4 linked regions of the Homo sapiens genome follow. The protein of the gene in region 1 interacts with the protein of each later gene in a pairwise test. Each region holds a gene or a part of one and is shown in the gene's direction. Other genes may lie near its edges. The genes, in order: CRB3, SLC39A9, HMOX1 and TMEM222.

Region 1 (7,327 bases):
AGGGAGCTCAGTGGTCTCAGGTCTGGTTTCAGAGTTCCGCCTCTGCGTGCCTCAGTTTACCCTTTCCCCCTTTGCCCAAGGGGGCAAGGTAGAGCGCTGTCGGGGATTGGGTTTCATAATCCCCTTCCACTTGACCTCCCCGCCACACCCACTAATCTTCAGGAACTCAAGTTCTCGCTTTTCCCAGACGCACGCAAGAACCGTGCACCATCTCGCTCGCTCTCTGCCCGCCCGCGCCTTACACCTTCCCCGCTCGGCCGCAGAAACAGAAGATCCAGGAGCGATGCTCTCCCACTGTCCCTTCTTCCCGCCCGCGCGCTTCCTTTCTCGGTTCCCACTCTGACTGGGAAACAGAAAATCAACGCGCGGCGCGGCTGCAAAGTCGGTTTCCTATTGGTCAGCGCCTCCTGGGCTGAGCCCGCCCGCCCCGCCTCTTCTCCCACCTAGGCGGGGCCTCCCCGCAGACCCCCGACTGCCTCCAGCCCGCAGTCCCACCGCCTGCCAGGAGATCTTAAAGGGGCCGCGGCCGCAATCAGACGCTGAGCGGCGTGGGGAGGGGGTGGCTCAGTGACCCGGGCGCGGGGTTGAGGATCCCAGTGGTCGAGCGCTGGAGGCAGGGCCCCAGCCTGTCGCACTCGCTGCACCTGCGGAATGTCCCTACTGCTAGTTTCGGGCGCAGTTTCTCGATCCACCATTAGGGGGAAGGGAGCCCAGACCACTTGACAGCGAATACTCGATAACAAATCTCACTTTGATTCAGTGCTTTGCACATGCCAGGGCTTTTACTCACCTCTCGAGTCGTCTTTGCCAAAACCCTATAAGGTAGGTGGTACTGGCGTTCGCACTTTGCAGATAAGGAAGCGGAGGTTAAGTCATTCTCCCCAGTCCTGATGACCACTAAGGGGCAAAACAGGGTTTAAAGAGATCTGGGATCCTTAACCATCACTCTATACCCTAGAAAGAATTAATTATCTTTTTTTTTTTTTTTTTTTTGAAACGGAGTTTCGCTGTTGTTGCTCAGGCTGGAGTGCAATGGCGCGATCTCGGCTCACTGCAACCTCCGCCTCCCGGATTCAAACGATTCTTTTGCCTCAGCCTCCCGAGTAGCTGGGATTACAGGCGCCCGCCACCAAACCCAGCTAATTTTTGTATTTTTAGTGGAGACGGGGTTTCACCATGTTGGCCAGGCTGGTCTCGAACTCCTGACCTCGTGATCCGCCCGCCTCAGCCTCCCAAAGTGCTGGGATTATAGGCGTGAGCCATCGCACGCAGCAGTGAGTTTTTTTTTTTTTTTTTTTTTTTTTTTTTTTTTTTTTTTTTTTTTTTTGAGATGGAGTTTCGCTCTTATTGCCCAGGCTGGAGTGCAATGGCACGATCTCAGCTCACCACAACCTCCGCCTCCCGGGTTCAAGCAATGCTCCCGCCTCAGCCTCCCAAGTAGCTGAGATTACAGGCGCACACCACCACGCCCGGCTAATTTTTGTATTTTTAGTAGAGACGGGGTTTCACCATGTTGGTTAGGCTGGTCTCAAACTCCTGACCTCGTGATCCGCCCGCCTCGGCCTCCCAAAGTGCTGGGATTACAGGCATGAGCCACCATGCCCGACCGCAGCCGTGAGTTTTGTATTTTTATTAGAGACGGGGGGGGGGGGTTTCACCTGTGGACCAGGCTGGTCTCGAACACCTGACCTCAGATTATCCTCCCGCTTCAGCCTCCCAAAGTGCTGGGATTACAGGCGTGAGTCACCGCGCCCGGCCTGGCCTAATTATTCTTTAATCATCACTTGTCACCCAAGGGTCCTCAGGAGGGGGTCTTGTTATTATCATCATCCTTTATCCAAAGATACAGCATTGGCCGGTCTCGGTGGCTTAGGCCTCTAATTCTAGCAATTTGAGAGGCCGAGATGGGAGGATCGCTTGGGGTCAGGAGTTTGAGACCGGCCTGGGCAATATAGCAAGACACCCAACTCTACAAATAATAATAATAATTATTATTATTTTTTTTAAAAAGGAAAGAAAACAAAGATACAGTCGTGAGGGCATATTTAGTTCACGCCCAGCCTCTGCCTAGACAGGTGTGCTGGAACAGGTGTGCCCCAGACAAATGAGTCTCTTCTAAGAGGCTCCCCAGCAGAGGTTTTCATTTACAGTTGTTCCTTGCAGGTGCCATACAGCATGGAGTGATACAGAGGTTTTTTTCCATGTAAGTGCCCCTAAATAGGTGTTTTCTCACAGATACATTCTTGACAGGTGGGCCTCAGTGTATGTGAGCCCCTGCCCTGATGGTTTTACCCACAGATGTGTGTCAATGTGAGTGTGCCCCGTGCAGATGTTCCAAGTTCTTCCCCTCACTTGAGCTCAATTCCATACAGGTGTTCCTCCTACAAGGTGCTTTCTCTTACCTCACAGGTATGTTTCTGAGCAGGTTTCCCTCCACCCATGAATGCATTCTACAGTCTCCCGCCCCGTAGGTGTGTTTCAGTTAAGTATACACCCATCTGGGTATGTTTCCATACAACCGAGTCCCATACAGGTTTACGTAAATGCAGGTGTGTCTCATACAGGTATTTACAAGACACTGACACCCAGGAATTCCCCCAATGCAAGTGCCGTACATTTCATAGGTGAGCCATGCAGATATGTTCCTAAAACAGGTCTATTCCACATCAGAGTGCCTTAGTTAGCTGTTTGTGATGATAATGCAGGCGTGTTCTATAGAGATACTGTCCACCCTGGTGGTATGTATCCATTTGGTTATATTTCTTTTCTTTTTTTGACAGTCTTGCTCTGTCACCCAGGCTAGAGTGCAGTGGCGTGATCTCGGCTCACTGCAACCTCCGCCTCCAGGGTTCAAGCGATTCTCCTGCCTCAGCCTCCCAAGTAGCTAGGATTACAGGCGCCCACCACTACGCTAGCTAATTTTTGATTATTTTTTAGTAGAGACGGGGATTTCACCATCTTGGCTAGGCTGGTCTCGAACTCGTGACCTCGTGATCCACCTGCCTCGGCCTCCCAAAGTGCTAGGATTACAGGCGTGGGCCACCATGCCCAGCCTTGGCTATATTTCGTATAGCTGTGATTCAATGCAGATTTTTTTTTTTTTTTATGAGATGGAGTTTCACTCTTGTCACCCAGGGTGGAGTGCAATGGTGCAATCTCGGCTCACTGCAATCTCTGTCTCCTGAGTTCAAGCAATTCTCCTGCCTCAGCGCCCCCCGAGTAGCTGAGATTACAGGCACCTGCCACCACACCCGGCTAATTTTTGTATTTTTAGTAGAGACAAGGTTTCACCATGTTGGGCAGGCTGGTCTGGTTTCGAACTCCTGACGTCAGGTGATCCTCCTGCCTAGGCCTCCCAAAGTACTGGGATTACAGGCGTGAGCCGCCGCACCCGGCCATCTGTTTTCTGTATGTTCTTATATGTGAACACCTGTGCAGTTGTCTTCTGTACAGGTTTGGTTCCACACAGGTGTTTACCATACAGCTGTTTTTTTGTTTTTAAAATTTTTTTAGAGACAGGGTCTCACTTTGTCACCCAGGCTGGAGTACAGTGGTACAATCATAGCTCACTCACTGTTACCTCCACTCCTGGGCCCAATCGATCCTCCCACCTCAGCCTCCCAAGTAGCTGGGGCTACAGGTGCGTGCCATCACATCTGGCTAATTTTCTTATTTTTTGTAAATATGGGGCCTCCGTCTGTGGGCCAGGCTGATCTCGAACTCCTGGCCTCAAGTGATTCTCTTACTTCGGCCTTTCAAAGCGCTGGGATTACAGGATCACGCCACCGCCCCCGGCTTATTTTCTTCTTTTTATTTATTTGTTTATTTATTTATTTATTTTTTGTAGAGAATGAGGCCTCGCTGTGTTGCCCAGGCTGGTCTCGGACTCCTGGCCTCAAGCAATCCTCTTGCCTCGGCCTCTCAAAGTGTTGGGATTACAGGCGTGAGCCATTGCGCCTGGGCAGGTATTTTTTCTCATTAAGCGCTCCCCATCCAAGTCTGCCCTAGGCAGGAGTGCCTAGTGCACGGGTACATACATACCCCGTGCGTCTCCACACCTGTGCGCTCCCACAGATATGCTCGCAATGCAGGTGTAAGGTCCCCCTCACACCTGCGCGCTTCCGCGGTCTCCCTCCCCGCATCCCCATTAAGGGACTGGGGTCCCGTTACAGGTGCGCCCACAGCGCGGCCCCGCCCCCTTCTTGACTCCGCCCTCTCAGCGAGGCTCAGGTGCACAAGCCGGAAGTGCGCTCTCCCAGGTGAGTGACTAAACTTTCCGGGTCACGTGACAGGGCGGAGCCGGTGGGGTCGGACCCACAGAACGACCGACGGACCGAGGGTTCGAGGGAGGGACACGGACCAGGAACCTGAGCTAGGTCAAAGACGCCCGGGCCAGGTAGGAAGGCAGGACGCACCGCTAGGCCTGCCCCCTCGCCCGTCCACCCTGCCCGTCCCGTCCCGTCCCGTCCCGTCCCCTTCCTTTCCCCAGCCCAGGAACGCGCTCCTGGGAGTTAATCTTTAATCGCTGACCTCTGGCGGCTGGGGCGGGGCGGGACTCATGGGTGCCCTGGCGCCAGTTGTCTCTCCTGTGGGCCTGCGCCGGGGTCCCCACCCCGATCCCAACGCCTGGGCCTCTCCTTCTCCTGTCCCCAGGTGCCCCGTCGCAGGTGCCCCTGGCCGGAGATGCGGTAGGAGGGGCGAGCGCGAGAAGCCCCTTCCTCGGCGCTGCCAACCCGCCACCCAGCCCATGGCGAACCCCGGGCTGGGGCTGCTTCTGGCGCTGGGCCTGCCGTTCCTGCTGGCCCGCTGGGGCCGAGCCTGGGGGCAAAGTAGGTACCAGCTGAGAGCGCTGGGGGGGAGGGGTCTGGATTCCTGGATCTCTGCTGGGGACGTGGCTTAGAAGCGCTGGGTATCTGGGGCGCAGAGAGGGTCAAGAATTGGGGAGCGGGGAAGAAATACCTTGGGGAGGGGTCTACAGGGTTAGGGCTCGGGGGGATTAAGATTTCTAGTTTCTTCCTTGGACACTGGGAGTTGGTCTAGGAGACCTGAGTTCCCCAGCGAGGTGGAATTGTGTGTTGGAGTGGGGGCTCCTAAGTAGGACTTGGGGGGAGGTAAGGGCTGCGTACCTGAGTCTTGGTATAGTGCAGGTGTTTTTGGGTGAACTGGGAGCTGGGAGGAGGCCTGCCGAGCCGGGTCGACCTGGTTGGCTGAAGGTGTAGACCCCAGCCATTCAGTCTTAGATTTGTTTTGGGAGCCTGTGGGGAGGTGTGAGTCAGACACTCCAGGGAAAAGCTAGGCCCGCCCAGATCCTTAAGGGCCCAGGGCCGAGAGGTGAGTAGGGGAGGGGTGGACTTCTGGACACCCTACTGGGCTCTGCGGGACTGGGTCGGGGGGGTGTCCTGGGGAGCAAACACCCAAGGGAGAGGTCTTACCTGCAAGACACCCAACCATCTCTGTGCGAATGAAAGGCAGAGTTTGAATTGGGACCTGCTAGGGGGAGGTGAAGGGGAATGCCCAAAGCAGGTGCAGATGGGCGGGGATGGGAGAGAAAGATGGAGACTGAGTTATTCTCTGCCTTCACCCTCCACAGTACAGACCACTTCTGCAAATGAGAATAGCACTGTTTTGCCTTCATCCACCAGCTCCAGCTCCGATGGCAACCTGGTGAGTTGGAGGTATATGTGGGAAGATGGCAGCAAGGATGTTATCTAGGGGTCACACATATAGCATGTAGAGAGGACTAGACACCCCCTCCCCCCAGAGGTGGCAGGTCAGGGTGGCTTTGGAGAGCTCTAAGTAGGAGAGACCTGAAGTCTTAGACCAAGAAGACTAGGACACCCTGGAGGGAGTGGGCAGGAATACTGTAGCTGTCAGATGTGTGGGCTCAGGAATTCCATATGCCTCTCAGGTGGGTGGGGGAGCAAGGAGCTCAGACTTGGTAGATGTGATGAAAGCAGGAGTCCCGGCCGGGCGCGGTGGCTCACGCCTGTAATCCTAACACCTTGGGAGGCCGAGGCAGGAAAATCATGAGGTCAGGAGTTTGAAACCAGCACGGCCAACATGGTGAAACCCTGTCTCTACTAAAAATACAAAAAATTAGCCAGGCGGGGTGGCACACACCTGTAATCCCAGCTACTTGGGAGGCTGAGGCAGGGGGAATTGCTTGAGCCCAGAAGGCGGAGGTTGCAGTGAGCCGAGATTGTGACACTGCACTCCAGCCTGGGCAACAGAGCAAGACTCGGTCTCAAAAAAAAAAGCCGGAGTCCCAGACATGGCAGGTGCTTGCGAGGGGTGTCCCGGACATGGCAGGTGGTGGGGAGCCTTCGCACCCCAGACAAGGTAGGTAGGGATCCAGGAAGCCCCACTGTGGGGATCAGATCACCAAAAGTGGCAGATGTGTGTATGTGTGTGTGTGTGTTGTGGGGTAGGGGGTGATGAGGGGGATGCCATTCAGGTGGAGGTGGACAGGCTACCCAGGCTCAGGTGATTCACACCTGTCCCCTCTCTGCAGCGTCCAGAAGCCATCACTGCTATCATCGTGGTCTTCTCCCTCTTGGCTGCCTTGCTCCTGGCTGTGGGGCTGGCACTGTTGGTGCGGAAGCTTCGGGAGAAGCGGCAGACGGAGGGCACCTACCGGCCCAGTAGCGAGGAGCAGGTGGGTGCCCGCGTGCCACCGACCCCCAACCTCAAGTTGCCGCCGGAAGAGCGGCTCATCTGAACGCTGGGGCCTGCTGCAGCCACCAACACTGCCCAGGACTGCGGGTTGCTGGCTTGTACACCGCAGCTGCCACCGAGACACCAGCCTCTGATGGCTCAGGAGGACTTGTGGGGAGAGGCTGGGGGCACCCATGTGGTGGGCTCTGTGCAGCATGTTGCCTCTGCTTGGCTGTGCCTGCAGCTCAGGGTGCTGGGGCTCGGGACCCACCCCCCTGCTTGCGGAACCAACTTTTCTCTGTGTGTCCAGCAGGCCCCACAACCCCCTCTCCTTTCTTTCAGTTCTCCCATGCAGCCGAGGCCCGGGCCCCTCAGGACTCCAAGGAGACGGTGCAGGGCTGCCTGCCCATCTAGGTCCCCTCTCCTGCATCTGTCTCCCTTCATTGCTGTGTGACCTTGGGGAAAGGCAGTGCCCTCTCTGGGCAGTCAGATCCACCCAGTGCTTAATAGCAGGGAAGAAGGTACTTCAAAGACTCTGCCCCTGAGGTCAAGAGAGGATGGGGCTATTCACTTTTATATATTTATATAAAATTAGTAGTGAGATGTAACAAAAGCTTTATTGGTGTGTTTGAGCTGGTGGGTGCATTAGCTGAGATGGAAGTGACAAATGCCG
Region 2 (6,854 bases), on another chromosome or scaffold:
ATTCGTAGTCAGCATAAGTTCTGCCTTCTGGCCTCTTGGTAGGCTGTACCAGCAAAATGGTGTGAGACTGCAGGGGAAAACATGATTTCAATATAAGTTTCTATTTGAGAAATTCATAGTATGATAAAAAAAAATCCCCATTTGTAATGCAATAATGATTGCTAGTTATTAAAATGTAATTAGAGAGGCCAGGCATGGCATCCCATGCCTATAATCCTCATCCTCTGGGAGGCTGAGAGGGGGAAAATCACTTGAGGCCAGAAGCTTGAGACCAACCTGGGCAACATAGCAAGACCCTGTCTCTACAAAAAAATAAAATTTGCCGGGTGCATGCCTGTAGTCCCAGCACTTTGGAAGTCTAAGGCAGGAGGATTCCTTGAGCCCAGGAGGCTGAGACTGCAGTGTGCCATGATCACACCATTGCATCGGAGAGTGAGGCCCTATCTCTTAAAAGAAAAAAAAAAGTCATTAGGATACTTTTCCCACAAAAATATTGATGTCTTAGTCTAAGTATAGTATCTAGCTGGATTCACAACTCTGCTGTACGGTCTCCCTAAGTCTCCCAGTCCTACCGTACTTACTGCCTACAAGTAATCAGTATAAGCTACCTTGCCCTCCTTTTCCTTTTCTATCTTTTCTTCCCAACTAAATTATAAACCTGCTTAGGTTTTCTGTCTCCAGTGGTCACTTTCCATCTTTAATGCTCTTAAGTCACTAATAAAAACTCAGATGGGCTGATGAAAGGAAACAAAAGGGGAAATAGTATAATAATCACAAGCATGGTTTCAACTTAAGCTTTTTTTCCAACCTCAGCGTAAGAGCAAAGTCACATTTTATCCAGGGGTTAGACTTAACATTAAAGCAGTAGATAAATTAGCAATATAAACATATCATAAGAATTACCCTTAAAAATCCATTAAACTATTCACCTAGTAGATGACTTGCCTTACTGGGCTTTCTCATACCAAAATCACATATTAGAATCACACAGAAAGTTAGGTCATCACACTATGAGAAATGTGAAATAATGCCCATAGCAGACAGACTTGTCTTCCACTTCGTGCTCACTGGGAAACATGTTTTTGTTAGTGATCAGTCACTAACAAATCAATCTCAGTGTTTTCTCAACGTGGGCTCTATTACCTTTTGGGTTGACTGATTCTTTGTTACAAATGTCCCTTGGGGAGCAAAAAATCTCATCCAGCTGAGAATTCACTGGTCTGTTGAAAATATGACCCATCCAATTTTCTGCTACATGTGTAAGGTTAATTAAATGCAAGTATGATGCAACTCCACTGTAAATCCAGTCCCAAATCAAACTATTCACCTTTTTCCTTCTCTTCTGCTGTACTAGTATTTTTCAGCCAAAAACCAGAAAACAAAAATTTCCTAACAGGAACCCTAAACTGTTTTGGAATAACATAATTTTTTTTTGGAGACAGTTTTGTTCCTGTTGCCCAGGCTGGAGCGCAAAGGCGCGATCTCAGCTCACCGCAACCTCTGCTTTCCGGGTTCAAGCGAATCTTCTGCTTCAGCCTCCCAAGTAGCTGGGATTACAGGCATGCACCACCATGCTCGGCTAATTTTGTCTTTTTAGTAGAGATGGGGTTTCTCCATGTTGGTCAGACTGGTCTTGAACTCCCGACCTCAGGTGATCTGCCTGCCTCGGCCTCCCAAAGTGCTGGGATTACAGGCGTGAGCCACCGCGCCTGGACAAAATGATCAGAATTTTTAACCATCAAATTGGAACAGAAATAGCTGAAGCCCAGACTTTCTGAATAAACAATGGAAAAATAGTACATTTAACATGACATGCAAAACCAAGGGTTATCATACCCTTCTCTCCCCATCAAGAACTAAACCACTTTGACTAAAAGTTTCAGAGGGTTTGACATAAAAACGGAACTTGGTGACAAGAGACGAAGGATTAACTCTCACCTGTAATAACCTGAGCAGTCAAAGCCTTTGTTAAATCGATTTAAAAGCCACAGAAAGCATCATATTAGATTATTTGTTATACAGAAGTCTTTGTAAGCTAGCTACTCAAAAAGTTTCAACGAGTCATTTAAGAAAAAATAATTTTGTAGAAACCACGTGCATTCTTGCAACAGAGGTTGCCCTATACACTAGCTATCTCAACTGCTACTATAATAATTGTATTCCAATTCTAATGCAAATTAAAGGACTAATTTGAAAGGGTAAGAATGGAAAAAGCTATACAGCATGTTGCTTTTTATATCTAGTCTTAAAATGAACACCGGGCAAAGTTTACTATTTTCAGTACTTACTGCCCAAAGACAAGGATTAAAAATCACTAAGAACATAACATGATACATTTTAAAAACTGTGGTCAAGTGGTTATCATTTTTAAATGGCAATGCTTTCCTGCTCAAATTCTTTACAGATTATACCACCTCTCAAGCCAGTTTTGGTCACTTTCTTCGAATTGGAGCTTACTGATCATCCCGGTTGGGTTCTAATAGAGCTGGTCTCTGAGCTGAGCCTACTTTTCAGCCTCCAGCCCCAAGAGGATATAAATACAGATAAGTACAGGATCGAGGGCTGAGGGACGCGCCACACGCAATACCTAGAGGTCTCAAAAACAGGAAAAAAAAAAAAAAGGCAGAGCACAGGAAAACGAAAGCTGAAAAAACACTGCAAAGCAAATACGTCCTCTCCTGGCCCACATGCTGGGTATAGCTGGATCTGTCAGCTTCGAGAATAGTTAGACAACCCTGGCCCATTGTTCCTACAGCAGGCTAGAGCATTTGGAGGGAAAAATACCATATCCGGCAGGGCCCGGTGGCTCACGCCTGTAATCCCAGCACTTTGGGATGCCGAGGCGGGTGGATTGCTTGAGGTCAGGAGTTCGAGACCAGCCTGGCCAACATGGTGAAACGCCGTCTCTGCTAAAATAAAAAAATTAGCCGAGCGAGGTGGCGGGCGCCTGTAATCCCAGCTACTAGGGAGGCTGAGACAGGAGAATTGCTTCAACCCAGGAGGCAGAGGTTGCAGGGGTCTGAGATCCCGCCACTGCACTCCAGCCTGGGCGATAGAGTGAGACTCTCTATCTCAAAAAACAAAACACCTCCCCCACGTCTCCCTCTACCGAGTAACAATCGGGAGAGAGTTCATCCTCAGGCCCAAGGCACGCCGGACCCGAGCGAGCAGGCGGGCGCGCAACCGCAGGGCGGACCGGGGCTCCGAGGCCTAGAGTCAGGCCTGGCGTCCCTGCGGCGGGAAGAAGGGTCAATCCACCGACTAGAGTGGCGGGGAGCATCACGCGGCGCTGCATGGGGCTCGTGGGGAGGGGAAAACGTATGGGGCTGGGGTCGCTCTGGAGGCCGGGGACTCGGACTCGGGTAGCCGCGGAGGCCTTTCTCACCATCGCGCCAAACTCTCTTCGCTACAGCAGCTGCCGACACCGCCGCCGTTACACGAGCTTAACTACAACGCCGCTAACAGCCAATCCTCGCGAGAGGAGCCGCCGGAAGTCGTCGAAAGTGCAACGCAAAAGAGCCTTTTGGATCATAGAGGCACAGTCACTTCCGGCAGCTAGAGCAGCTACTGACTCTGTTTCAGCCATCTTCGATAAAGGCAAAAAGGTAAGGGAAAGTTTCCAAGCTTTAGGAAGAATTATTTTTTTTCAAGACGCTGTCTTCCGTACTTTCGTTATTAAACATACGGCTCAAGTGATCACCGGTATAGACAGTGACATCAGACATCTTTCATTAGCCCTACTCAAAAATGGCGGCAACGTAAGTATCCTGGGCCGGAGGTCGGTTGTAACCCGGAAGTGCCTTTGTAAAGGAGGGGGTGGTTAGACAATCCGGAAGTGGATGGAATGAAGAGATGCCACTTGGCGGCCATGGCAGCTGTAGTATCGGCGACTCCGGGTCAAGGCCCGGTCGAGTGCAGTACCATGGGCAGCACCGGGTATAGGGCAGAGACAGCTTTGTGTCAACTTTGCTGCTGAACCCCTAGGACCCATCGTTAGAGACCTGCAGGACTCCTTTCCTCATCCCAGGCTCGGAGGAGAGTTTGCTGGGACTGGTGGGCTGGTTTCCTGCTCTGGGGGGCGGATCACCTTCGGGGCCGCCTCTTGGAGACAGGGGCGCCTAGGGAACGAACAGGTTCGCTTGAGTCACTTACCCGCCGCCGCCTAAGACATTGTGCCACCCTCAATCCGACAATCGAAGAAATCGATCATTCGCACATTTTCCCCATTGACTTTTCCCATCTCTGTTAACCCACGAGAATCTAATGACTGGCATCTGAGAACCCAGAGCCTGGGACCTTAGATTGCTGTAAGCTTTCTCTGGTGCTAATATCAGCAAAAAGGGTCTGTTGCCGGGTACGTTCAAGAGGAAGGTGCCTCGTGAACACATCTGCTGGTGGGAAGGCCTAAAGAACTGGAAAGCCCACTCTCTTGGAACCACCACACCTGTTTAAAGAACCTAAGCACCATTTAAAGCCACTGGAAATTTGTTGTCTAGTGGTTGTGGGTGAATAAAGGAGGGCAGAATGGATGATTTCATCTCCATTAGCCTGCTGTCTCTGGCTATGTTGGTGGGATGTTACGTGGCCGGAATCATTCCCTTGGCTGTTAATTTCTCAGAGGTAAGAAATTCTCAATTTTCTGTCAGCTGTCAGGATGGCTGTGAGATAGTAGTTTTAGTTGCAAAGGGAAGCTGCTTCCCTAGTTAAATCTCAAAGCTGAAGGTCTCATTAAGAAAGACTATCTTTTTTAAAAGATACATGACACTTAATAATAGAAAGAAACCTCATATTCATTAGTGGAATTCTTAACCTGGGGTGGATAGATATTCCACGGAAGATCCTGGAGTATTCTGAATCCCCTAGAATTGCTTACAAAAATTTGAGGTTCTGTGCATTTACCTGGAGAGAGGCACCATAACATTTCTTTTGATTCTCAGAGGTTTCATGGAATCAAGATTCCAGATTGTTATCAAGAAAATAAATGGAGGGCTGGGCGCGGTGGCTCACGCCTGTAATCTCAGCACTTTGGGAGGCTGAGGTGGAAGGATCGCTTGGGCCCAGGAGTTCTAGACCAGCCTGGGCAACGTGGCGGGACTTTGTCCCTACAAATGAGGCTGAGGCAGGAGGATCGCTTGACCCCAAGTGGTTGAGGCTGCAGTGAGCCGTGTTTGGGCCACTGCACTCCAGCCTGGACAGCAGAGTGAGATCCTGTCTCCAAAAAAGAAAAAAAAAGAAATGGAGAATGTTATTTTTCTACATGAACTGAAATCAATATGATAACTTCCTTTTGAGAAAGTCAAACACACCTTTCTGAGGAAAGCTGTTTTGTTTTTTGGATGTCTGTACTAGAATGAATGTAAGAAAAAACTAAGATTGTTCTTAACTCACATTTCCTTTTAAAGAAGGGGAGCCTTGGAATTGATATTCTGAAGTTGTTTCAAATCTATTTGCTTAGCAATGAATTTTTGGTTAATACGTTTTGACATTTTCGTTAATTTGATTGGCACCTTGAACAGATGTTAAGCGAGGGTCCCGGGAAGAGGGATAGATGAAAGCACTGTTCAGTGAACATGCTGATAGGTCCTTTAGGTAGGCAAAAGGAATTCACGAAGTGCACAGCGTTCAAAGATTTAGGGGGGAAAAACTACTACATTCAAAGGGAACAAGATTTCATGAGTTTGTCCTAGAGTTCAGCAGTAAAATAGGCCCTAGTTTCAGTGCCATTCCTGAAAGTACTTTCAAAGGAGGCCTGAAGTAGAAAGGAAAGGTATAAATGAAATATTAAGTACACCTTGAAGAAACCTGAGGAAGAGGAGACATTACAGGTGAAAATAGCCTGTGGGTGGGAAAGAAGGTGGGACAAGGTGTTGTCAGTTTGAGGAAAAGTAAAGCCCATAGCCAGATGGAACAGATGCTTAAATTGTTGTTGTTCTTTTTCTGTTTCCTTTTTAATCTGTACCCCTCAGCATCTAATGATAGCATTTTAAAAAATTACGTGCATTACCTAACTTCACTTAAAAAACTCAAGCTGGGTGCGGTGGGGCGCGCCTGTAGTCCTAGCTACTCAAGAGGATAAGGTAGGAGGATTGCTTGAACCCAGGAGTTGGCCTGGGCAACATTGAGACTCTTTCTCTTAAAAAAAAAAAAAAAGAAAATAAAAATCAGTGACATATAGATGAGGAAACGGAGACTGGATAGGTTCATGAAGTTTGTTAGAATCAGAAGAGAGGTATTTTTTCAGTCTAGCTTTTCTGACTCAGACTAGTTCGTAGCCACTAAGCATTTCGGCAAAGGTACATGGTACATATACATGGTAGCCTGTGTGCCAAATCCAGCCTGCAGACTGTTCCATTAGCAGAAGTTTATTATTGTTGTTCTTTACCAGTATTTCCTAGAGGCAAAGGTTGGGTCGGGCTGAGTAGCAGCTGTTAGGCACAGTCCTCCTTGCCCTTGAAGCCTGTTTCACTTATTTGGGTTACCTGCCTGCCCAGTACTTTGTGAACCTGCTATGTTTCCTTTGACATAACCATATTTTCTTATAACTATATTAGAATTGAATTGACATTAGTAGGGCTGACATGTGTGAGATTTGGGTTGGTTTGTGTATTTTTAAACATATTGAAGTAACATTTATGAATAATCATAATTAATTCTGATAAGCAACCAGTAAAACTTTTTATTTCTATAAAATGCCTTTAACTTTACCAATTCCAGTATTTTTTCAAACTACCTTGAATGATTATTGCAATATGCGGATATATACTATTTCCTTTTTCACTAGAAGGAAATGTTTACAGGAGTGGTGTTAATAACTGGGTCATTAATACAGATAATTAGTATGTCATGTCATTTGT
Region 3 (7,023 bases), on another chromosome or scaffold:
ACATGCTTTATTTATTTTATTTTATCTGAGACAGAGTCTCACTCTGTTGTCCGGGCTGGAGTGCAATGGCAAGATCTCGGTGCCCTGAAACCTCCGCATCCTAAGTTCAAGCGATTCTCCTGCCTCAGCCTCCCAAGTAGCTGGGACTACAGGTGCCCACCACCACACCTGGCCAATTTTTGTATTTTTTTAGTAGAGACAGGGTTTTACCATGTTGGCCAGGCTGGTCTCGAACTCCTGACCTCAGATGATCCACCCGTCTTGGTCTCCCAAAGTGCTGGGATTAGAGGTGTGAGCCACCACCCGGCCGAGACATGCTTTAATGAGGAGAGATTTAATCTGTGGTTCCAGGCTGGGTGGGGTCCTTGGGCCTGTAATGGGTCTTCCTCATCCTCCTCCCCTCTCCCTTAAAAAGATGAGGTACACCCAGTTGCTGCAGTGTGACTGGAGACAGTGGGTGCAGGGAGGTGAATGCTGGAATATCCCATCCCCAGCCAGCTTAGACTTTGGATTTTGCCTCTAAGTCACAGGGTTCTAAGGAGGCGCCAAGATCCATGAGAGAATCCAGTGCTCACTTACATTAAGCTGGTGGACGTGGCACTTATCACAGCCCTTCTCATGTGAGCGCTAAGTGCCAGGCTGCCCTCTGTGCTGGCCCAGATCCTCTCACTTAATCCTCACACCAGCCCCATCTAGTATGTGGCAGGTGAGGGAACTGACTAGCACAGTTGGCTAGCACAGTCACACGGACCTCAGATCATCTGCTCTAGGATAGGATAGGAAGCTGGGACCAGAGAAAGCAAGTGGCTCACCCATGGTCACACAGTTAAGGACTGGCAGAGTTGGGTAAGAACCAGGTCCGTCACACTCAAAAACCCAGGCTCTTTTGTACCAGACTGCCTGGCTTTCTGTCCCCTCAAGGAATAGAGCTGCTTTGAATGTTTGTGGCTCAGAAATAACTCAGAAACTCCAACCTAAATGTCTTAACTTTGTTCTCCTTCAAATTTAAACGGGCGTATTAATGTGTAACGGGAGTTAGTGCCCCAAGCCAAGGTACACTCAAGACCTGTTGCCTCAGCCCAGCATGCAGAGGTGGTGGGGTTCAGAATAGGCCTCCAGGAAGGAGAATTGTGCCCTGTAGTTGGTTACGCAGAGGTCAAAAGCCAGAAGCACATGGCCAATCTCCTTTAAGCACTTTCATTTCAGCTGTTCCCCTCTCCTGAGCCATGGTGGGTCCCTGGCAATGCCCGGTCTTCAATCTAGTTTCATTTCTTACTAGCTGTGCAACCTCCATGTCTCATACCCTCTCTGAGCCTTAGTTTCCTTTTCTGTAAAATGGGAATAGCAATTCCTTTGTTGGATTTTTTTTTTTTTTTTTTCTGAGACAGGGTCTTGCTCACTCTGTTCCCCAAGCTGGAGTACAGTGATATGATCACAGCTCACTGCAACCTTGAAATCCTGGGCTCAAGTGATACCCCTGCCTCCGCCTCTGGAGTAGCTGGGACTATAGGCATGCACCCCCACAGCCATACCTGGCTTTTTTTTTTTTTTTTTTTTTTCTGAGTCAAAGTCTTGCTCTGTCGCCCAGGCTGGAGCGCAATGGCGTGATCTCGGCTCACTGCAACCACTGCCTCCTGGGTTCAAGCAATTCTCCTGACTCAGCCTCCCGAGTAGCTGGGATTATAGGTGCCTGCCACCATGCCTGGCCAATTTTTGTGTTTTTAGTAGAGATAGGGTTTCACCATATTGCCCAGGCTGGTCTCTTGGCCAGGCTGGTCTCGAACTCCTGATCTCGTGATCCGCCTGCCTCAGCCTCCCAAAGTGCTGGGATTACAGGCGTGAGCCACCGCGTCCAGCTGGCTAGTTTATTTATTTATTTATTTATTTTTATTTATTTTTTTGAGACAGAATTTCGCTGTGTTGCCCAGGCTGGAGTGCAGTGGCGAGATCTCAGCTCACTGCAAGCTCCACCTCCCGGGTTCACGCCATTCTCCTGCCTCAGCCTCCTGAGTAGCTGGAACTACAGGCGCCCGCCACCACGCCCGGCTAATTTTTTTGTATTTTTAATAGAGACGGGGTTTCACCTTGTTAGCCAGGATGGTCTTGATGTCCTGACCTTGTGATCCTCCCGCCTCGGCCTCCCAAAGTGCTGGGATTACAGGCGTGAGCCACCGCACCTGGCCCCAGCCAGCTAGTTTTTTAAAATAATTTTTTGTAGAGGTGGGTTTTGGGCTATGTTGCCCAGGCTGGTCTCAGACTCCTGGCTTTAAGCAATCCTCCAGCCTTAGCCTCCCAAAGTGCAGGGATTACAGGGGTTTGAGCCACCACACTGGGCCAGTTTGTTAGATCTTTATATAAGGATTCAATTAGGCTGCTTGTTTTGCCCAGTGGGGTAAAAGGTTTTTAGGCTGAGAAAGTGCATGATCGTCTTTTCCTCTTGTAAAAACCCCTCTGGCTGCTGTGTGAAGAGGATTGTAGCGAGGGGTGGCAGAAGGAGTCAGAGCCCAGCTGCGAAGTGAGGAGGGCCTTTCCAAAGGCAGTAGTGGACGGGACGGACAGAGGTGGGGGTCTTCTATGTGGCTGGCGGCCTGACCTGCTCACTCTGCTTTCAGCTGGTGATGGCCTCCCTGTACCACATCTATGTGGCCCTGGAGGAGGAGATTGAGCGCAACAAGGAGAGCCCAGTCTTCGCCCCTGTCTACTTCCCAGAAGAGCTGCACCGCAAGGCTGCCCTGGAGCAGGACCTGGCCTTCTGGTACGGGCCCCGCTGGCAGGAGGTCATCCCCTACACACCAGCCATGCAGCGCTATGTGAAGCGGCTCCACGAGGTGGGGCGCACAGAGCCCGAGCTGCTGGTGGCCCACGCCTACACCCGCTACCTGGGTGACCTGTCTGGGGGCCAGGTGCTCAAAAAGATTGCCCAGAAAGCCCTGGACCTGCCCAGCTCTGGCGAGGGCCTGGCCTTCTTCACCTTCCCCAACATTGCCAGTGCCACCAAGTTCAAGCAGCTCTACCGCTCCCGCATGAACTCCCTGGAGATGACTCCCGCAGTCAGGCAGAGGGTGATAGAAGAGGCCAAGACTGCGTTCCTGCTCAACATCCAGGTGAGGGTCGGGCAGCCTGGGGCAGCCTCTGCCTCCCCCCGTTGTTCCTCCAAGGGACCCTTCTCATTGTAGGGGAGGGTGCTATAGGTCATGGTTAACACAGGGAACCAGAGTTCCAGCACTGCCACTTACTAGCTGGGTGATCTTGGGCAAATGCCTTCATCTCTCTGTACCTCAGTTTCCCTATCTGTAAAATAGGGATAATAATGGTACCTATATCTTAGACTTATAAGGCTTGAGTGAATTTACAGCAGTAAAGTCCCCACAGCAGTGTCTGGCACAGAGGAAGCCCTCAAACATTCACTACTGTCATAATGGGACATGAGAATCAGTTGTAGCTCTCTGTGACAACAGTCTGTGGCAATGTATAAGTTGTGTGTGCACTAGTGTATAGCCAGGTTGGCACTCCCAGGGTTACAGGTGGCCTCTGCCTTCCAGGGACTCTCAGCCTAGCCAGAGAGGTTTACCTCTTTCTACAAGTGTCTCAAATCCAGGGGGAAGGTGGGGTTTGCGCAAAGCCTGGAAGGATGAATTCTTGGGCAGAGGTGGAGGGGTGAGGGGCTCCTTCTAACCAGATGTCATAGAGCCTTCTCTCTCTGCCACCCCCTGGAGGTGCCATGGGGCCTGGGGCTCGGGGTCATGCCCTCCTGGCTCCCTACTCCCAGCCGTGGATTGCAGAAGATTCTGGTCCTGGCCCCTGTTACGGAACAAGGCCTTTCCCTTCCACCCTCCCCCTTCAGAAAATCCAGTCCGTCTTGGAGGAAGAAAATCTGTGTCTTTCAGAGAAGTGTAGGCAAAAGAAAAGGGCCAGGTGCAGTGGCTCGCGCCTGTAATCCCAGCACTTTGGGAAGCCGAGGTGGGCGGATTGCTTGAGCTCAGGAGTTTCAGACCAGCCTGAGCAACATGGTGAGACCCTGTCTCTATCAAAAATAAAAAATAAAAAAAAATTTAAAGGAAAAAAATGTTTTTAAAAGAAAAGGGATTTGGAATCAGAACTGGCTCTCAGGCTCGTGCCTATAATACCAACACTTTGGGAGGCCAAAGCAGGAAAATGGCTTGAGCCCAGGAGTTTGAGACCAGCCCTGGCAACACAGTGAGACCCCATCTCTACAAAAACATGAAAAAATTAGCCAGACATAGTAGCGTGCACCTGTAGTCCCAGCTACTTGGGAGGCTGAGGTGGGAGGATTGCTTGAGCCCAGGAGGTCAAGGCTGCAGTAAGCCATGATTATGCTACTGCACTCCAGCCTGGGCAACGGCAACAGAGCAAGACTCTGTCTCAAAAACCAAAAAAACAAAAACAAAAACAAAAAAAAACGGCTCTTGGCTGGCCGGGCGTGGTGGGTCACGCCTGTAATTCCAGCACTTTGGGAGGCCGAGGCGGGTGGATCACGAAGTCAGGAGATCGAGACCATCCTGACTAACACGGTGAAACCCCATCTCTACTAAAAAAAAGAAAATACAAAAAAAATTAGCTGGGCATGGTGGTGGGCACCTGTAGTCCCAGCTACTCAGGAGGCTGAGGCAGGAGAATGGCGTGAACCCGGGAGGCGGAGCTTGCAGTGAGCAGAGATCGCGCCACTGCACTCCAGCCTGGGAGACAGAGTGAGACTCCGTATTAAAAACAAAAAACAAACAAAAAAAAACGGCTCTTAGTGCCTGACCTCTGGATCAGTCCTTGGGCAAAGCACTTAACCTGTAGGAGCTACAGTTTCCTCATCTGCAAGGCTAACAAATACCATTCAGCACACCTCACCAAGGCTGAATTTCACAAATCTAAACTCAAGAGAAGAAAGCAGCGGCAGAAGAGTGCATGTACTAGGATACCACTTAATATTATTTCAAAACAAGCAACGCAGCCTTTTGCATGGAGACACAGGCTAAGGACATGGGCGGCCACAGTGAACTCTAAATCCAGGATCATTGTTATCGGTTGGGAGGGCAAGAGCAGGCAGGGGAGCCAATTGGGCTTGGAACATCTTATCTCTTAAGGTGGATGAAAGGGATATGAATTTTCTTTCTTTCTTTCTTTCTTTCTCTCTTTCTTTCTTTCTTTCTTTCTTTTTCTTTCTTTTCTCTCTCTCTCTCTCTCTCTCTCCTCTCTCTCTCTCTCTTCTTTCTTCTTTCTTTCTTTCTTTCTTTCTTCTTTCTTTCTTTCTTTCTTCTCCTTCCTTCCTTCCTTCCTTCCTTCCTTCCTTCCTTCCTTCCTTCCTTCCTTCCTTTCTTTCTTTCTTTCTTTCTTTCTTTCTTTCTATCTTTCTTTCTTTCTTTCTTTTCTTTCTTTCTTGCAGAGTCTCGCCCTGTCACCCGGGCTGGAGTGCAATGGGGCGATCTTGGCTCACTGCAACCTCAGCTTCCCAGGTTCAAGCATTTCTCCTGCCTCAGCCTCCCGAGTAGCTGGGATTACAGGCATGCACCACCACGCCCGGCTAATTTTTTGTATCTTTACTAGAGATGGGGTTTCACTATGTTGGCTAGGCTGGTCTCAAACTTCTGACCCGTGATGTGCCCATCTTGGCCTCCCAAAGTGCTGGGATTACAGGGGCGCACCACCGTGTCCGGCCAATATTTTTCTTACCATCTTGTTATTTCCAAAGTATTTCCTAACACAACTTAAGGTCCTACCTTCAGCTGGGACCTGGTAGCATCTCTCACTGAGATAGGCATGTGTGTCTTTTGTCTTTTAGCTCTTTGAGGAGTTGCAGGAGCTGCTGACCCATGACACCAAGGACCAGAGCCCCTCACGGGCACCAGGGCTTCGCCAGCGGGCCAGCAACAAAGTGCAAGGTGAGAGCATCCAGGAAGGGGCACTTCCTCTGGGCTACACATGGAGGGACTTGGCTGTCTGACTGTAGTATCTCTATTCCTCTGTTTTCTGAATGTTTGGTGGTGGTGGGTGTTGTTTCCTGCTGCCCCACCCCACTGCCCCTGTAAGGACAGGTTCTCGCTATATTGCCCAGGCCAGTCTTGAACACCTGACTTCAAGCAATCCTCTTGCCTCTGCCTCCCCACATGCTGCAGTTACAGGCGCGAGCCACCATGCCAGCCTGAATGTTTGTTGTTGTTGTTGTTTGAGATGGAGTCTCACCCAGGCTGGAGTGCAGTGGCGCGATCTCAGCTCACTGCAACCTCTGCCTCCCGGGTTCAAGCAATTATCCTGCCTCAGCCCCCCGAGTAGCTGGGATTACAGGCGCCCACCACCATGCCTGGCTAATTTTTTTTTTGTATGTTTAGTAGAGATGGGGTTTCACCATGTTGGCCAGGCTGGTCTCGAACTCCTGACCTCAGGTGATCCGCCCACCTTGGCCTCCCAAAGTGCTGAGATTACAGGCGTGAGTCACTGTGCCCGGCCACCTGCGTGTTTTTGTATGAGAAGTGGAGTGCAGGCAAAAGGACCTGGGGTCAACCTTCAGCGTGTGGCTCTGGGCAAGCCATGAGACTTCTCCCTACCTCAGTTTCCCCACCCGTAAAATCCAGTGAGGTTCAGCTACTTCTAGCTTATTGGCTCAGAAGTGCACAAGAACCCCTCAGAAATCATGGGAAACTCCTGCCTCCTTAATTTAGACTCCTTTTTAGGCCTTTGGTCCCCTGATGTGGGCCAGGGAGTTGGGGACCTGTATCCAGCTATGAACCCACCACAGGAAGATGTCCCTTCTGAGTCTTGTTGTGTGTGAGCCCCTCCCTCATGTGCCTAAGAACGATCAAGGCTGGCTGTACTGAAACATCTTGGAAACTTCCAAAAAGACCAAAGTGCTCCACAAAATGTACCCTCACTAAGCCTAAAACACTGAGGGAGGGAGTGTGGCTTTGGGATGGGTAGCAATAAAGAGGTAAGGCTTAGCTACCTCCTGGCAGGTTATATTAGGCCTCCCCTCCTGTGCCACCCTAACCTACCTGGCTTGTGGCTTTCTCACTTGTG
Region 4 (7,497 bases), on another chromosome or scaffold:
GTGGTGTGCACCTGTAATCCCAGCTTACTAAGAAGGCTGAGGCAGGAGAATCACTTGAACCCGTGAGGCAGAGGTTGCAGTGACCCGAGATGGCCCCACTGCACTCCAGCCAGGGTGACAAAGGGAGACTCCATTTCCAAATAAAACAAAAAAATGGAATGGAAAAGGAAGTCGTTTTGTGAACTCTGATGTCTAAAGGACCAGTGGGTTTGCTCTGAAATAGTTTATTGCACTGAGTTGGTCCCCTTAATCTCCTCCCCACCATGGGAAGGTTTGGAGTCATAATGGAAAGAGGCCCAGCTTCCAGGGGCCAGAGAGGGCAATGATGAAGCTGAGCAGAAGAGAGTACGCTGTCCTCCCACATGCTGCATATACTGCAGCATGCCCCTGGCTCAGGCTCTTTCCCTGGATTGAGGTGATTCTTCCCCAGAGCCCTTAAGGAGACATCTACAGTCAACAAATAACTCCAGTGACATTACCTGAGCACTTCCTCTCTGCCAGTTGCCTAGTTGGATACAGGGACCAATAGATCCAGTTAGTCCCCTTCTCAAGGAGTTCACAGTCTCTTGGGAGCGACAGACATGTAAACAGCTAATGCTAATGCAAGTACACATGAATATTCAATAGGTGGAAACACAGCCTTCGTGCTCTGGGAGCAAAGAGGGAGCATTTGCCTGAAACCTTGAAAGTAGTGTAGAAGAGGAAAGGAAGGACATCCCCGATGAGGGAATGGTGTGAGCCAACACACAGGGTATGAAGTGCAGGACTTGTTCTGTGAAGGGCAAACAGGCCAGTGAGGCTAACTCCAGGCAAGTCCCGAAGGAGACTGTGAGAAATGAGGCTGGAAGGAAAATTTGAGGGCATCATGAGGGGCCTTGAATGCCAGGAGCGAGATATCCTGAAAGAGGAGATTTGTGAGTCCTGGGGACTTATACATGGGGCCAATTGAGGGGGTGCGCTGACTCCCACCAAGAGAGGAAATGCCCCAAGCTCACCCTTCAAACAAGCAGCATCTTACCCTCAAAGGTTTCCCAGCTTGACAGTTTCAGCTCTGGCATCCTTCCCTCCCCCAGCCAAACCCATAAGTGGATCCAGATGGTCATTCCTATTTTAGGTTGGGGTGTGTGTTGGGGGAGGGATAGCTCTGAAACCTATCAATCCTGTCCCAAGCTCAGCCATAACAGGAGCTTCCTCCAGGACCCTGCTGTGATCCTGTGAGCCTGGAAGGAAATATTAGTCTTTGATGGAGATTTCCCATCTGTTTATGGGTGATAAGGAAGCAACAGCAGAGGAGTCCAGGGCACAGGCCAGAGAGACTCTTACAATTGGGTGAGAGAACCAAGGTGTATATGTGAGAAGGAGTGTTCTGCAGGGATGAATCCATTATTTAAAAAAAAAAAAAAAAAAAAAAGGCCGGGCACGGTGGCTTATGCCTGTAATCCCAGCACTTTGGGAGGCTGACGCAGGTGGATCACAAGGTCAAAAGATCAAGACCATCCTGGCCAAACATGGTGAAACCCCATCTCTGCTAAAAATACAAAAATTAGCTGGGTGTGGTGTTGCGCACCTGTAGTCCCAGCTACTCGGGGAGGCTGAGGCAGGAGAATTGCTTGAACCCAGGAGGCAAAGGTTGCAGTGAACCAAGATTGTGCCACTGCACTCCAGCCTGGTGACAGAGTGAGACTCTGTCTCAAAAAAAAAAAAAAAAAAAAAAAAAAATCTTGTGGATGGGTTGTGGTGCGGGGCAAGCCTGTGGGACAGGCACCAGAGGATCTGGCTTCTACCTCCAGGTACCCGGCCCTCCTCATGCCACGTTTCTGCAGCTGCCTAGGCCAAGGGTAGGATGACGTGGACCTTAGGAAAGGAGCCAGGGCTCTGTGGTCTGATCCTCTGCCTGAGCACTGTTCCCACCAACCCAAGCCCATTGAAAAGGTTTGGGACACCAAGAGGTAGCAGGTTCCTGCGTTTAGACTGTAACCAGCACGTGATACCAAGCCTGTAAGTATTTGCCTTTCATTCAATTTAACAAATATTGATTAAACAAATACCATGCACTAGGCACTATACTGGGCATTGGGTATACACACGTTAGCAAGACAAATAGAGTTTCCAGTCAAGTGGGGGAGGCAAATAGTACATAGCTACAAAGAAGCTATGAAGAAAAAGAACAGGAGATTAATGGGGGCTTTCTCATTTAGATTGGGAGACCAGGGATGGGCTGAGAAAGTAATATTTGATCTGAGACTGGAAGAATGAAAGTTAGCCGCTTTAAGTAGATAGGAGTAGTATTTCAGGCAGAGGGGAACAGTGTGTGCCAAGTCCCTGGAATATGAAGGAGTGCATGAGAGGAACTGAAAGAAAAGGCCAGGATGGCTGTAGTATAGTAAATAAGGAAGGGGCATGGGTCCAGATGGTGCAGGGCTTTGTGAGCCATAGTAAGATATTTGTGTTTCATACGAAGTGCAACGGGAAGCCATTGAAGTTTGGCAGATTAAATGTGGTACGTGTATTAGTACTACCAAACTTGTGGCAGGCCCTGAGAGACTTACTTTGGTTGTTTATTCATCAATACCTACAATAAATGTTTAAAGGGTACCCAGCAACCCTGTGCTAGAATTATGGGCTGACAGTCATGGTAGGGAGATGTCTAAGGCACAGACCTTCCTCACAGCCTGTGGTCCAGAAGAGATTAGATAACTACAGTGATTGAATCAAGAAGTCATGTAATTTATTCTCAACAACTGTAAACTACACACCTAATCTATTCCAAACCCTGTGCTGGATGCTGGTTGTTGCCCTTCAAGGATCACACACTGCACAGGGGTCAAGGAGAGGTACAAACGTGCTCAAAGAATTTGGAGTGGGTTAGAATCATTTTCTAACCCACTGTAATCATTATCATGCCTGCGAATCTCTGAGGTCTTTATAAAACATCCATTTATTCAATCACCTAATAAATCAGTAAACATCTAGTGGGCATATGCTTTGCACCAGGAACTGTGCCAGCTACTGAAGTCAAGGACCTTAGAGTTCTATAGCAGAGACAGACATCCCCCACAAAAAAACATGAAAATATTAGGTGCTACAAACAGGACAGCAAGCTCTCCATAGATCAGCATTGAGGGAGGGTAATTCAGTGGAAGAAGGACCTTCCCCAAATGGGAAGCTCCTAACTTCCTGAGTGCATTTGTCCATACCTTCCTTTACCTGATTACTCTTTTTATTCTTTTTTTTTTTTCTTTAAGGCTGATTTTTAGTGGCAGCCTTCCTTCTGACTTTGGGCTGTCCCCAACTTCCCCTCCCCACCCCAGTAGACCCCAGTAGACTTCATTTTCTTTGTCTTGACATCCTTTAAAAAGCCAAAAGTCTCCAACATTTGAGCCTGGCTTCTCTCTAATTATGGTTGTGTGTGATCTCAAACAATTAACTTCCCTGAGCCCGTTTTCCCATTTGTACAATGAAGGGATTGGATCACATCTAAGGCTTATGATTTACTCCAGTAAGTATTCACACTCTTGCACACACTGCTCTGCACGGCCTTCCTTTCTTTGTACCGCTGCACTCATACTTCCACTCCTGTGCCACATGGCAAACATCAAGACTCAACTCAATAATATCCTATCTTCCAGCAAGTCTTCCCTGTATATACAATAAAACACACACACACACACACGTGCGCACACACAACTGTGTGTGTCTTCCTTTATGCTACCACTACCTCGTGAGAGGGCCACAGAATGAAAAGGGCAAGGGAGGTATAAGACTTGGGTTTGGGCCAGGCGCGGTGGCTCACGCCTGTAATCCCAGCACTTTGGGAGGCCAAGGCGGGCGGATCACAGGGTCAGGAGTTTGAGACCATCCTGGCTAACATGGTGAAACGCCACCTCTACTAAAAATACAAAAATTAGCCGGGCGTGGTGGCACGCGCCTGTTATCCCAGCTACTCGGGAGGCCGAGGCAGGATCGCCTGAACCTGGGAGGTGGAGGTTGCAGTGAGCCGAGATTGTGCCATTGCCCTCCAGCCTGGGCAACAAGAGAAAAAATTCCGCCTCAGAAAAAAAAAAAAAAAAAAAGACTTGGGTTTGCATCGTGGTCTCTCACCTTTTGAACCTCAGTTTCTCACCTGTAACAGGAGGGAATACCTAATTTGGATGTCTAATTAGTTTATGGGGATTAGAAACAATTCATGTCAAGTGCTTGGCACCTAAGAAGTGCTCAATAAATAGCGACTGTACCACACCTCCTAGGAGCCCTCAGCGTACTGAATTAGAGTTCTCTATAAGTCTCCGGCGCTAGACTGCGAACTGCCTGAGAGCATCCCTTCTGCAGCCGCGGGGCATAAGCGGCAAAGACTCGGGGCTGGCAGGCGCATAGGGAGTGGGGCGGGGCTGGCCGGGCCCAGAGGAACGCGGCTCGGATTCCCGGGGGAAGGCCAAGCGGGGCGGACCCCATCTCCGGGAAGTGACGCCATGGGGACGAGCGGCACCAGAGCCGGGGCCAGTCGGAGCGGGGCGCGCGCCGCATGGCGGAAGCGGAAGGGAGTTCTCTGCTCTTGTTGCCGCCGCCGCCACCCCCGCCCAGGATGGCGGAAGTGGAGGCGCCGACGGCGGCCGAGACGGACATGAAGCAATATCAAGGCTCCGGCGGCGTCGCCATGGATGTGGAACGGAGTCGCTTCCCCTACTGCGTGGTGTGGACGCCCATCCCGGTGCTCACGTGAGTCTCTTCCGGCATCCGCCTGGGGACGAGGAGGGCCCAGGGAGAGCCGGAGTCGGGCCGGGCTAGCCTCCGGCCCCAACGCGCAGCAAGCCTTTTCCTCGGGTCTGGCCCGCACGCCTCGCCCAGTCACCAGAACCCCGCCATCCATGTAGTGCCAGTTTGTGCACACGGCTGGGACACGCTCCCTGCTCTCAATACACCTGGTGTAGCCAGGGAGAGAGTTGTAGGCCAGCAGGAAAGGGCAAGTGGCTGGGAGACTCGAGCTGTGAGTGTGTAGAAGAGGGAGCCCCTTATCGGATCTGAGGAGACATTTTTATTAATTCACTGGTTTATTCTCTCATTGAGCAAATGCTTACTGGTCGCTTACCATATTCCAGACATACTGCTGGGTCTGGGAGCAAGAGTGGGAGTTTGGTTGGGACCACACGAGATCCTGGGATGTCAACATTGGAAGGGCCCCCAGAGATCTGAGAGTCCAACCCTTTGTCTCACGTGCCATCTCAGTTGCAAACTGGGTTTAGATCCCAGGTTGTCTGCCTCCCAGACCAAAGTTCTTTCTGTAACATCAGCCTTTGTCAGGGGAGAAGCAGGTGCTCTGGTACTACTTGGCGCCTTTTGGGAGGAGCTCTCATATGGGGAGAGGTGGTTTGCCCTCCTGCTTCAACCTTGACAGCTGATAAACGTAACCCCTCCTCACCGTGCTGGATAGTTTGCCAAGCTCTTAAACACCCATTTTATCAGAATTAAACATCCATTTTCTAAGGTAGGTTATCTTCTCAGATGGTGAAGCTGAGCTGCTTGTAGCATTAAGTGTCTTGATCAGGTTCGCACCCCAATAAGCAAAGGCATGAAGAGCTCAGTCTTCTGATCTAACTTGCTCTTTGCACTACATCTTATCCACTCTCACCTGATGGGATAGCTTGTTCCGCTATCAATAACAGCCAGTGGTGATGTGGAGAAGGGATCATTTGGGGCCTTAGGTGTTGCTGATTCTAAAAAGATCGTAGTTTTTGAATTATGTTAAAATACTTGAATTATTTTGTGTTTTCAAGTACTTATGCATATAAGAGCATCCAAATCTGTTCTTTAAAAATAAAATATTGGGACAGGCGCGGTGGCTCATGCCTGTAATCCCAGCACTCTGGGAGGCAGTGGAGGGTGGATCGGTAGGTAGTTCGAGACCAACCTGGCCATCGTGGCGAAACCCGTCTCTACTAAAAATACAAAAATTAGCTGGGCATAGTGGCACGTGCCTGTAATCCCAGCTACTCTGGAAGCTGAGGCAGGAGAATCGCCTCAACCCGGGAAGTGGAGTTTGCAGTGAGCCGAGATTGCACCACTGCACTTCAGCATGGGCAACACAGTGAAACTCCGTCTCAAAATAAATAGTGAAATAAAATCTTAGGAAAATGTGCACATTAATTCATTCAGTGTTCTTCTAACACATGTGCTAAGTGACCCCTGTGTTCCCAGATAGTTCTAGGTGATGCGAATATACAGTGATGAATAAAGGAGATATGGTCTTTAGACTTTTGAGAGTTTAAGTCATAGTGGAAGGAGATAGACAGTAAACAAGTAAGCTAATAAAAGAGCACCTGATAGTGATGAGTGCTGTGAAGAAAATAAAATATTAGTGTGAAAATAACAGGGGCCGGGCGTGGTGGCTCAGGCCTGTAATCCCAGCACTTTGGGAGGCCCAGGCGGGCGAATCACCTGAGGTCAGGAGTTCAAGACAAGCCTGACCAACATGGAGAAACCCCATCTCTACTAAAAATACAAAATTAGCCGGGGTGGTGGCACATGCCTGTAATCCCAGCTACTCAGGAGGCCGAGGCAGGAGAATCACTTGAACCCGGGAGGTGGAGGTTGCGGTGAGCCAAGATCGTGCTTTTGCACTCCAGCCTGGACAACAAGAGCAAAACTCCGTTTCAAAAAAAAAGAAAATAACTGGGAGGGATACTCAGGAAATGTATTGGTTTTCTTAAAACCTGTCTTGTGATCCTAAACTCTCTTTAGCCTTTCTTATTCTCAAAAACACCATCTGTGGCGTGGTCCTCTGCGGAGAATGGTAGCAGCGTGAGGTGGAGGCACCACAATCCCTTGTCACCTGGGCCAAAAGCAGCTCATAGCCCATTTCTATTCAGATCTGTGTACAGGTGTTCATAAGACCAAGATGAATAAGACACTGTGTTCCTGTCAAAGGGTTCATGTTCCCTTCTGTGTTAGTCCATTCTTGCACTAATACTTGAGACTGGATAATTTCTAAAGAAAAGAGGTTTAATTGACCCATGCTTCTGCAGGCTATACAGGAAGCATAGTGGCTTCTGCTTCTGGGGAGACCTCAGGAAGCTTCCAGTTATGGTGTAAGGCAAAGGGGGAGGGAGGCATCTCACATGGCGGGATTAGGAGCAAGAGGGAGTGAGGGGGGAGATGCTACACACTTTTAAACAACCAGATCTTGGGAAAACTCACTATCACGAGAACAGCACCAAAGGGATGGTGCTGAACCATTTATGAGAAAACCAGCCTCATGATCCCACCACCAGCCCCCACCTCCAATATGGGGACTACAGTTTGACAGGAGATTTGGCGGGGACAGATCCAAACCATGTCACCTTCAAAGGACTCACCTCCAGCAGGAGGGAGAGAAAGGTCAATTAGCCATCGTAGTATTACTGTATAGTGATGATTGCAGAGCTAGGCATAGATGTGGCGCAAGTAACTGTCACCTGTCTTTGGAGGAGAGATCAGAGGAGGAAATGGAACCCAAAGATCTGT

Evidence for each region.
Region 2: the proteins of CRB3 (region 1) and SLC39A9 interact in binary tests that used the Homo sapiens proteins (3 or more experiments, as listed by UniProt).
Region 3: the proteins of CRB3 (region 1) and HMOX1 interact in binary tests that used the Homo sapiens proteins (3 or more experiments, as listed by UniProt).
Region 4: the proteins of CRB3 (region 1) and TMEM222 interact in binary tests that used the Homo sapiens proteins (3 or more experiments, as listed by UniProt).

What each region holds. Positions count from the first base shown.
Region 1 is NC_000019.10:6,459,955-6,467,281, forward strand, and holds CRB3 (protein crumbs homolog 3 isoform a precursor), read left to right. Parts: upstream 1-4,316; 5' UTR 4,317-4,396; intron 4,397-4,653; 5' UTR 4,654-4,747; coding exon 4,748-4,829; intron 4,830-5,590; coding exon 5,591-5,664; intron 5,665-6,511; coding exon 6,512-6,718; 3' UTR 6,719-6,996; coding exon of another isoform or gene 6,997-7,068; 3' UTR 7,069-7,267; downstream 7,268-7,327. UniProt on the Homo sapiens protein: Involved in the establishment of cell polarity in mammalian epithelial cells. Regulates the morphogenesis of tight junctions.
Region 2 is NC_000014.9:69,394,846-69,401,699, forward strand, and holds the start of SLC39A9 (zinc transporter ZIP9), read left to right. Parts: upstream 1-3,846; 5' UTR 3,847-4,524; coding exon 4,525-4,620; intron 4,621-6,854. Other genes in the region: ERH (enhancer of rudimentary homolog), read right to left, coding at 1-67, 3,386-3,388. UniProt on the Homo sapiens protein: Transports zinc ions across cell and organelle membranes into the cytoplasm and regulates intracellular zinc homeostasis. Participates in the zinc ions efflux out of the secretory compartments.
Region 3 is NC_000022.11:35,384,073-35,391,095, forward strand, and holds part of HMOX1 (heme oxygenase 1), read left to right. Parts: intron 1-2,612; coding exon 2,613-3,104; intron 3,105-5,791; coding exon 5,792-5,891; intron 5,892-7,023.
Region 4 is NC_000001.11:27,317,676-27,325,172, forward strand, and holds the start of TMEM222 (transmembrane protein 222), read left to right. Parts: upstream 1-4,487; 5' UTR 4,488-4,522; coding exon 4,523-4,716; intron 4,717-6,198; exon of another isoform or gene 6,199-7,497.